2 separate regions of the Homo sapiens genome follow, and region 2 is linked to region 1. A link means that fine-mapping ties the variant in region 1 to the expression of a gene that starts in the linked region. Tissue or cell type: testis. Region 1 holds a variant in brackets; the other region holds the start of a gene. All regions are shown on one strand. Distances are from middle to middle.

What was found. PIP is the estimated chance that this variant, and not a neighbour inherited with it, causes the effect.
Region 2: THSD4 starts here. The variant in region 1 is fine-mapped to the expression of THSD4 in testis (GTEx, PIP 0.97).

The regions. Positions count from the first base shown.
Region 1 is chr15:71,305,458-71,310,608 of GRCh38, reverse strand. The region is part of intron 6 of THSD4 (thrombospondin type 1 domain containing 4); the gene reads right to left. LOC124903520 (a long non-coding RNA gene) reads left to right here and starts at 4,276. Exons shown (of 2, transcript XR_007064700.1): 1 at 4,276-5,151. The variant A/C (reference allele first, on the strand shown) is at 2,479.
Region 2 is chr15:71,112,506-71,117,656 of GRCh38, reverse strand. It overlaps THSD4 (thrombospondin type 1 domain containing 4), which reads right to left and starts at 2,186. Exons shown (of 18, transcript NM_024817.3): 1 at 1,959-2,186. CT62 (cancer/testis associated 62) reads left to right here and starts at 2,153. Exons shown (of 4, transcript NR_168260.1): 1 at 2,153-2,733; 2 at 3,894-4,026. RefSeq lists silencers at 1,793-1,882, 2,033-2,172, 2,203-2,262, 2,109-2,286, 2,323-2,372.

The DNA.
Region 1 (5,151 bases):
CAAGCTTAGAGAGGCCAAGAAGAATCTAGATAGGCAGGCCCTGCTGAGTTTCCCCCACTCAGTCTATTAGCATTAGATCACATCCTTTTTGTCAACCATGTTTCTACATGGCTGTCCATACTTTGTTGAACCTAAGCATAAAAATGGATACTTTAAAAATATGGACACTTTTCCCTGTATCTTTAGGTCTTCGTTCTGAAGGGACCTATGTACACATGTTTCTCCAATTAATCTGGCTTTTGTGAGCTGATTTCTCAATGAGCCTTCAGAAGGCAAAGGGGAAGTTTCCTTGGCCCCCACAGAGACATTTACATATGTTCCAGGCATCCTTTCAACTTAGTGATAAACTGGATTCTAATGGATCTCTCCTAGTCCCACAGTGTAAGAGAATCATAAGGTCTGTGCTGATTTCCTAAAATGAAAACATGCTAAAAGACAGATAGGTAGGTAAAATCATAATAGCAGAAGTACTTGGATTAGAGGAGGCAGGGTACCAAGGACCACGGTTTGAAAATCACCTCCTAATACTAGCATTATCCAACTGATAGCTTTCTATGGTATGTCAGCTGACATCCTTCCCCAACCTTTTAGGAGCTGTATGAATAATAAATATTTGCAGGGTGAAGACAAGCTATACAGGTGGAGAGCCATCAATGCTGGGTGTCCATCTGCGAGTACATGAGGTAGGGAGGAAAGTAGCAGAGGTCAGCACTGGGGCTGTTTCAGGCAGCCCATATTCTCTGTGTAACACGGCCTGCATGCCACACCTTCCTCTGTCAAGTATATCTTTTTATTAAGAAAGAAACAGAAAACAAGCCCATACATATACGGTCAACAAGAGTGCCCAAATCATTCAATGGTGGAAAAATCGTCTCTTCAACAAATTGTGGTTGGACAACTGGATATCCACATGCAAAAGAATGAAGTTGGACCACTTTCTCACACCATTTACAAATACTAACTCAAAATGGGTCAGGGATCTAAAACTATAAATCTCAGAAAGAAACCTAAGTGTAAATCGTTATGGCCTCAGACTAGGTAATGGTTTCTCAAATAGGACATCAAATGTACATGCAGCCAAAGAAAAAATGGGTAAATTAGACTTCATCAAAATTTAAAACTTTTGTGCTTAAAAGGACACTATTAAGAAAGTGAAGAGACAACCCCACACTGGAAGACAATATCTGCAAATTATATATCTGGTAAGTATTCAGAATATATAAAGAACGCTTACACTTTAACAATAAAAAGACAGGCAACCTAATTTATAGATAGGTAAAGGATTTGAATAGGTATTTTTCCAAAGAAGACATACAATGGTCAGTAATATGCTCAACATTAGTCATTAAGAATAAAACAGGCCAGGTGTGGTGTCTTATGCCTGTAATCCTAGCAATTTGGGAGGCTGAGACAGGCGGATTGCCTGAGCTCAGGAGTTCAAGACCAGCCTAGCCAACATGGTGAACCCTGTCTTTACTGAAAATACAAAAAATTAGCTGGGTATGGTGGCATGCGCCTGTAATCACAGCTACTCGGGAGGCTGAAGTGGGAGAATCACTTGGGCCTGGGAGGCGGAAGTTGCAGTGAGCCGAGATAGTGCCACTGCACTGCAGCCTGGGCAATGAAGTGAGTCTCCAAAAAACAAAAGCACAAGAAACCACTTCACTCCCCACTAGGATGACTAGAGTTAAAAAGATGGACAATAACAAAGGTTGACAAGAATGTGGAAAACTTGGAACCCTCATACGTTGCTGGTGGAAATGTAAAATGCTGCAGCTGCTGTGGAAAACAATTTAGCAGTTCTTCAAAAAGGTAACTGTGGAGTTATCCTATGGCTGGGCACTTCCACTCCCAGGCATATACCCAAGGCCACACGATAACTTGCACGTGAATATTCATAGCAGCATTATTCATAATAGCTAAAAAGTGGAAACAACCCATGTCCATAAACAGAGGAATGGATAAACAAAATGATATATCCAAACCATGGAATATTACTTGGCAATTAAAATGAAGGAAGAACTGATCCACATGAACACATGGAAGGCCACTGAACTGCACAATGTAAAATGGCTATGTTATGTTCTATGAATTTTACCTCAGTAAAAAATAAAGAAAACAAAATAAAAAGCAAGGAAGGAGACAGGGCTCTCCTGATCTTTCAAACCAAGCCCAAATATTGTCTTCCATATTTCAATAAGCACCCTAGCAGGAAAAAGAATCAATGTGAAGAACCTGTTATTTGACTTGAATTCAATCATTCTAAGAAAAGTAGCAACTTAAAAGGACAAGTTAAACCCGAGTAGGCAGGGAAGGGTTAAGAAAAAGCTAACTCAGCAGGCCTGCGATGCTCAAACCTTGCATATTCCAGAGAAAGGCCTGCCTCAAGGACTGACCCTTGGAGGCTCCTGGGAGGTAACCTCTGGGTCCTTGGAATACTGTCCTGATAAGAGTGTTTTTGTATGTCTGAGAACATAG[A/C]CCACCCAGTATTCAGGGTGAATGCCTGTTTTTGCTGGAGGGTAGAGGAGGTTGGGTTGGGAGAAACTAGAGGTCAGTCACACAGGTGCTGCATGCTTCTATGACTGGCCCCAGTAAAAACTCTGGACACCAAGGCTCTGGCATGCTTCCCTGGTGGGGAAGCATGTATCATCACACATTGTTGCTGGGAGAATTAAGCACATCCCTGTGCAACTCCACTGGGAGGGGATCCCTAGAATCCTGTGCCTGATTTCTCCTGGACTTGGCTCCATATGCCTTCTCCTTTTGCTAATTTTTATTTGTATCCTTTCACTGTAATAAACCATAAGTGTGAGTATGAAAGCATTTTTTGTTTGTTTTTGAGATGGAGTCTAGCTCTGTCGCCCAGGCTGGAGAGTGCAGTGGTGCGATCTCAGCTCACTGCAACCTCCACCTCCCAGGTTCAAGCAATTCTCTGCCTCAGCCTCCCAAGTAGCTGGGATTACAGGTGCCCCCCACCATGCCTGGCTAATTTTTGTATTTTTAGTAGAGACTGGTTTCACCATGTTGGCCAGGCTGGTCTTGAACTCCTGTCCTCATGATCTACCTGCCTCAGCCTCCCAAAGTGCTGGAATTACAGGCGTGAGCCACCGTGCCTGGCCTGAATGGGTTTTTAAGTACTGTGATTTCTTTTAGCAAATCATCAAGGCTGAGGATGATCTTGAGGGCCCTTGACACACTTAGGTCTTAAAAATTCAGTATGCTGGCACATCCAATGTACTTAACATACACATCAATCACACAGATGTAGAAACTGGGTATAATACCAAGTTACATGTGGGAAGACGGTGACACAGAGGTCACACAGCCACCGCCATAACTATGGCTACATGACAACCTAACTTCCCATCATGGAGGACCTGGGCATATTTACTGAGCCAGCCTTAACACGTGGCTAGTGAGGAGGTGTTCAGCCACCAACAGGCCAGAAAAGTTGGGGTGTCAGTCAAGAAGAGCAACTTTCACAGGCCAGAGCTCCGAAGAATCCCCAAGAACAAGGAAGGCAAATTTGTCCCAAAGCCTGGAAGGAAAGTGTTTTCCCCAAGAGTATGGCTTGAGGGAGGACTGCAGAGCAAGACCTGGAGAGAGGACAAGGCAGAAAATTCTGGGATGGTGCCTGAATATTCTCCTAGACTGGGACATGAGGCCAATTAAAAAATTTGAGAAATTTATGCTTGTACTTCAAACTGGTATTTCTAAAGAATGCTCTGTGAAGGAGAAGTGCAACAAGGATATTAATACATGTTTCACATATCATACAGGGGTCTATAATATGTTTGGCAAACACAAGGTTAAGCAATTTTATGTTTTGGGGTTGTTTTGAACTGCAGGACTTCTCAGAACCTTTAAAATGATACTCTGCACTATGCATTGTCAAGATGGTAAGATTATATGCAGCACTCCTGACTTTATTTGGCCACAGAATTCTCTTTCAAGCAGGATTTCAGAGATGTATGGCTCTAACAGACACCAGGGTTGAGAAAATTGCTGAACTAGTGGACTAGACACCCATACTTTATAAAACACAAATGCTTCCTTTCCAAACCCTTTTTTCATTGGTGCTGCTTTGTTTACCTTAATTTCTCAGTAAAGGTAACTGAGAAGCAGAGAGTGTACTGAAATGAGCACAGGCTTTGAAGAAAGATAAATCTGGGTGTGACCTCTGTTATTATGAGGATGAAAATGAGATAAAATAGTTTAGTAAGATACTGGCCATAAGAGAAGGCATCAAAAAATATATAATACCATTCCCTTTTTTTTTTTTTTTTTTTTTTTTTTTTTTTGAGGCAAGAGTCTTGCTCTTATCACCCAGGCTGGAGTGCAATGGCACAATCTTGGCTCACTGCAACTTCTGCCTCCCACGTTCAAGTGATTCTCCTGCCTCAGCCTCCCGAGTAGCTGGGATTACAGGTGCCCACCACCACGCCCGGCTGATTTTTGCATTTTTAGTAGAGAAGAGGTTTCGCCATGTTGGCCAGGCTGGTCTTGAACTCCTGACCTCGTGATCTGCCCACCTCAGCCTCACAAAGTGCTGGGATTACAGACATGAACCACTGCGCCTGGCCCGTCTCTCATCTTAATGCCTTTAAGCTCTTTACAATCGTTTGAGGGAAAAAGTTATCTTCACACTTCCTCCAGTAATAAAGGGAAAGCTGCATAGGATGGTGGTGGTGACTGGCCAACTCCAGGTCCCAGAAAATCTGGAAGGCTGGAGATTCCAGTGAGTGGGAACTCGAGAAGGATAGATTTGGAGTGGGCTATAAGGGGAGGCCTGTCCCAGCAGGGCAGGCCCCTTGGTTAGTGACACATGTGAGTTTCATTCTACTATTAAGAACAAACAGCTTTCCCTCTACTCATCCATTTCTCCTGGACAGCATCAGTCCCCATCCGGAATAACCTTTCTAGGAAGGGTGATAAGAGCTACCACATCTTAGTGCATCTTAGGTGCTGGGCAGTTTACAATAACAATCTCATTTATCCTCCCAGCAACTTGGAGTTTTTGAATAAAGCAAACGGACTCAGAGAGGTAGAATACCGTTGAAGGTCATAACTATTAAGTGGCAGAATCAGGATAGGAACTTGTATGTGTCTGGCTCCAACCCCACGTTAACTACTGCCCTCAACTCACTATGA
Region 2 (5,151 bases), 190 kb after region 1:
GGCTGGGAGTCAAGAGGGGAGATTATTACTGTAATTTGGACATGGTTGAAGGTGGGGGCAGTGGGAATGGAGACAGGTAAATAATTCCTCAGATATCACAAAAGAATGTGGAAGAGATTTTGCGATGAATGAGCTATAAATGTGGGGGACAGAATGGGAGTGTTGGGAACATTTAAACATTGAGACTCCCAGCAATTAGGATAAAAGTGGTACCATGGAGAGAAATGTGGGGGATGGAGAAGACGGCAATACACAGCCTCTGTGTAGGATAACTGATTGCAATCTCCACAAGTTTTTCGAGGCAAAAACAAAAACAAACTCCAAGTCAAAAATCTCCCCACCCCTGATCTTCCTCCCAAACTCTGGGCTGTATTTTTCTTTCGCTAACAGCCAGTAAGAAATATTTCTTTATGGCATAGGAGACTAAAAAGAAGGTAATGCCAAGCTGGTGCCCCGCCCAGTGCTGGGCACAGAGGAGATCACATGAGTTCCACTGGCCAGCCTCCCCACAAGAAACCAACCCAGTTGCTTATTCAGAAGGGGCTCCAGTATCCTGATCACCCAAACTCATTTCCCAGGCCCAGACCTCTGGGAAATCCCTGCTCCAGCCCTGCAGAGATTTATAGGAAAGTCCCAGGACGCCCATCTGCTTGCTTCCTCACATTAATTTCAGGGCTAGGATTTTGTTTTCTAAAGGAATTCAACTATGATGCCAACAAAAATCTATAGGAATTGAAGAGTTCCGTATTTTAAGTCACATTTTTAAAATGTTTGCTTCTTTGTATATTGAGACCCAGTAAGACCCTAGTAAGCCCAGTTACTCCATCACCTCCAACAATATTAATCAAGTAGAAGACACGCGGATTTTAAAAGCTGTGTGATCCTTGAAAAATCTTCAGACTGTCAGGGGTCCTGGGTGCCTCCAACTGTGAAAGGAGGGTTGGACAAGGCGATTCCTTAGATCTCTCTCGGGTATCTATTTCTCTAATTCCAAATTCCAACAGGCATCCAATGATTGCTACCCACGTCCAAGCTTTAGACTCATAGCCCGAAAAGGGCGAAGCGCAGCGTGGTAGAGATCGCAAAGGAGACAGGAAGAGAAGCAAGCATGCACTTTTAGTAAGACGGCAAAGGAGGCTGGGAGGTACGGTGCTGGGTGCGGACTGCTTAAAAAACTTACTAGACCACAAATTCCAGATACTTAGGTGGGCCCGAGAACGCCCTAAAATCCCCTTCCCAAGTGAGGGCTGATGTTATTTCAAATAAAAAGAAAACTTAACTTCCAGATCTGTAGAGCTCCAAGGTGAGCTCGCTGTGCAAAAGCTACTTCTGTAAGTGCGCCAAGGGGCCGCAGGTACTTAGGCTGCACTTGAGGAAGTGTCCAGAGTTGGCGGAAACAACCCATCCACTCGGGCTCCAGGCGCTCGCTGGGTTGCAGCAACTAAACTGAGACAGACAGACACACAGATCCGAGGCCCCAGGCCAGGACTCAAGGAGCGCTGACCGAGACTTGCCCGGCTCTCGGGCCCCAGGCGGGAGGGAGGCGAGGCTGAGGTGGGGGGCGCACGGGCTGGGTGTGCACTCGCCGGTCCCCTCCGACCCGACCCGGGGAGCACGGGGCCCCGACCCGGGGACGACTGAGGTGGATTGTCCCTAGAGTTTAAGACTGTCCCTAGAGTCGAGGGTGGAGGGATGAGCGCCGGCGCCAGCACAGAGCAAGACTCCCAGCAAGGAAGAGAACCAGAGAAGGAGGCGCAGCCGTCCGCACGGACCAGGCGCGCGCTGGCTCCCCGAGCCCGGAGCGGCGCAGCCCGCGGCGCCCCGGACACACCCACTGGGTAGCCCGCGCCAGCCCGCCCCGCCGGCCAGAGAGCGGGAGCCGGAGCCTGGGCAGCGGAAGCCGGGTCGGGGCCGCGCGGGCGGCGCGCAGGGGACGCGGGGCGCGCGGCTCTGCTCACCTGGCGGTCCGCGTCCCGGAGCGACCGGCGGCCGCCTCGCCTCGCCTCGCCCCCGCGTGGTTCCCGGCGCCGGGCAGCCCCGAGCGCCGCCGCATGGACGGCCGCCACCGCCGCCCAGCCGCCCCGCGCCCGCCCTGCACGGGCTCCCGCTGTGCCCCGATTCCGCGTCGGGCTGCGCGGGCGGCCAGCGGTTCAGGCGCGCGCGGAGAGCTCTGGCTCAGAGTTTGCGATCCGAGAGCGGGATCCGCGCTCCCTCGGTCCTTCCTCCCTCCCCTCTTGCGGCCTCCCGCTGTCATCTGGAGCCGCTCCTGCCGCCCCCTGGCGGCGACCGCGGGAAGGGCCGGCCCCCATCCGCACCCCTGACCCCGGAGGTCAACAACGGGATGGTCCCTGGGTCCCAGGGGAAGAGACATCACCCAGTAGGAGGGAGTACGGTCTAGACAGAGGCCACGAGGGCGGGAGGGGGCGAGAGTGGAGAGTGGCCCAGCTGGCCAGGGTCGTCTAAGTGAGAGGAAAAGGGAGAGGGCGGTTGAGACCAGGCCCTGAATTCCGCGTTCATCTTATCCTGAGGTCTGTGGGGACCTGTTGAAGGACTGGGGCAGGGGACGGACGCGGGCATCCTTCCATTTGGAACAGCCATTCCGGCAGCATCAGGATGGGGCGGAGGCAAAGCGGGGAGTGGGCGAGGCAAGTGGTGCTGTAAACCTGTGCGAGAAGGGGGCGGTGACTCTAAGGGCAGGAAGGAGCCCTGGTCACACACACACTCCCACGCAAGGTAGGACGCGCTGGGCTCCTTCTGAGGCCAAGGGGAAAGGACAAGAGCCCTCCAAATTCCAACGGGGGTTAGACAGCATGGGGAGGAGACACACACACCCTGACGGCCAGAGCCGTTCGGGATTCTTTCTTGTCTTATTCAGAGTAATATTTTGTTGGGGAAAAAAAAGCCTGCTGCAAAAAAATAATAATTCTTCTCATTAGTAATGATAAAAATCAAACTTTGATCCCTTCATTTTACGAATTGGGAAATTATTGCCCCCAAAAGGGCATGACCAAAGTGACGCGTTTAGTTAATGGAGGGAAAATTGCTAGGGCCCCGTTTCTTGAGTCCTAATTCAGAGCCAAATTCTTTACATTCGAGCCAAGGTGTTCAGAGCTGGGAAGGCAGGAAATAGAGTGACTGTGAGGAACTGTCTCTTCTTTCCCCAGAGCAGGGAGGGGGTGACAAATATTTGAAGAGGCTGTCCAGATACAGGCGTTTCCCTAAATTTCAGTCAGCCTGTTTGTTTATCGCTGCCTCTAAAGCTTGCCTGCAGGGGTTGTTTTGAAAGTGCAGGTATACCGAGAGGACAATGAAGGAGGTGGCAGAATGCAAGCTCCCTGCCCCAGAGCCAGGCAGCACCAGGGCTGGGTGCAGAGCGCTTCGTGGGAGCAGAAGGGAGCTCCCAGGGAAGATTGTCCTCCAGAAAAAAAAAAAAATTAACAAAAGGGAAAGAGGCTACTCAAGAGATTAGGCCAAAGAAAGAAACACCATTTTGAGCACCGACTACTGGCCCGGAGCCTGGCAGAGCCAGTTCTGATTGATTCAAGAGCTGGTTCCAATGGGATGAAATAATTCCACACTTGATCAAACAGATTTTGATGGGAGGCACCTGGTGTAAATGGGATTAGATTAATTCTGAGTGTCACGAGTCTCATGGGTCCAAATTAAGTCGATCTAACAGCTCTAGTAAATACTGGCCAGTTTAAACCATTTAGAACTGATTTAAAAAAAAAAACCTGCGCAACTTTAGAATGTACTTAATGTCACTGAATTATACACTTAAAAATGGTTAAAATGGAAATTTTTATGTTATGTACATTTTACCATAATTTTAAAAAAGCAAAACTAATAAGATTTGTTCAAACAAGATTGATTTATTCATTCATTCGAGACAGGTATTCAGTGCCGAGTGTGGCCTTGGTGCTAGGATTCAAAGAGGAAAGGAAGAAAACTTTCCATTCTAAAAGAAACTCCACGTGAGGCGAAGAAGATGAAATATAGTCAGAAAACCATACCAGTAGGTGGTAGGTAAATGCAGAAGTATTTAAGAGCTCATACAGGAGTACCTGCCTCAGGACAGGGAATCTGAGATGCTCTGCAGAGCTGGATCTTAAAGAACGGAGTGAGTTCATCACATAATGTCTGGGGCGAACAGGGCTCAGGAGCAAAGGATGTGGTTTTGTTTGTTATTTTTTAATTTTGAAATAATTTTAGACAAGTTTCACAAATAGTACAAAGAATCCCCTTATATCCCCCACCCTCTTCCTCTAATGTTAACATCCGACATAACCAAAGTATGATTATTAGTGAGCAAACTTGATTCGACAGACCTAGGCTGGCTCCTTAGAAGTGATTCCAGTCCATTTTCAACCTTGGTCAAATTGTTTTGACCATATTTTGCTTATATGTCACAAGAAAGTCTCTTTCTTTAAAGTCAAGATAATACTTGTTTTATTTGTTTATTTATTTTGAGAGAGTGTCTTGCTCTGTCACCCAGGCTGGGGTGCAGTGGCATGATTGCAGCTCACTGCAGGCTCCACCTCCTGGGCTCAAGCAATCCTCTCACTGCGGCCTCCCAGGTAGCTGAGACTACAGGCGTGCGCCACCACATTTGACTAATTTTTTTTTCATTTTTTATTTTTAGTAGAAAGGAGGTATTGCTGTGTTGCCCAGGCTGGTCTCAAACTCCTGAGCTCAAGTGATCCTCCGTTCTTGGCCTCCCAAAGTGCTGAGATTACAGGCGTGAGCCACAGAGACCAGCCTATACTCATTTTAAACAAAGAGATATTTACATTATGTGTAAGCATCAGTGAATATTAAGTATGCTAAGACAGCAAGTTTTAATCTTTCAGTCCTGTTATATTTCTGCTTTTATCCAAATGTGTCTGTCACGTATGAATCAGAAGAGCAGAATGTGGTCCTTGCATATAAAATAGCTTACTGACCCTCACCGAAAGAGAGAGCCAAGAATATGTGCTTCAGATCACAGTCAAAGGCTAGCCTGTGCTTACCTAGGCTGGGGGCCTGCCTGGCATGTCAGTGTCAGCTATACACAGCATCTTGGAGGGTGGGTCACCCCTTTGCATATCTGATGTGGTGAGCTACTCACTACCTCATAAAATAGCCACATTGTTCTTAGAGGCTCTTTGTTAG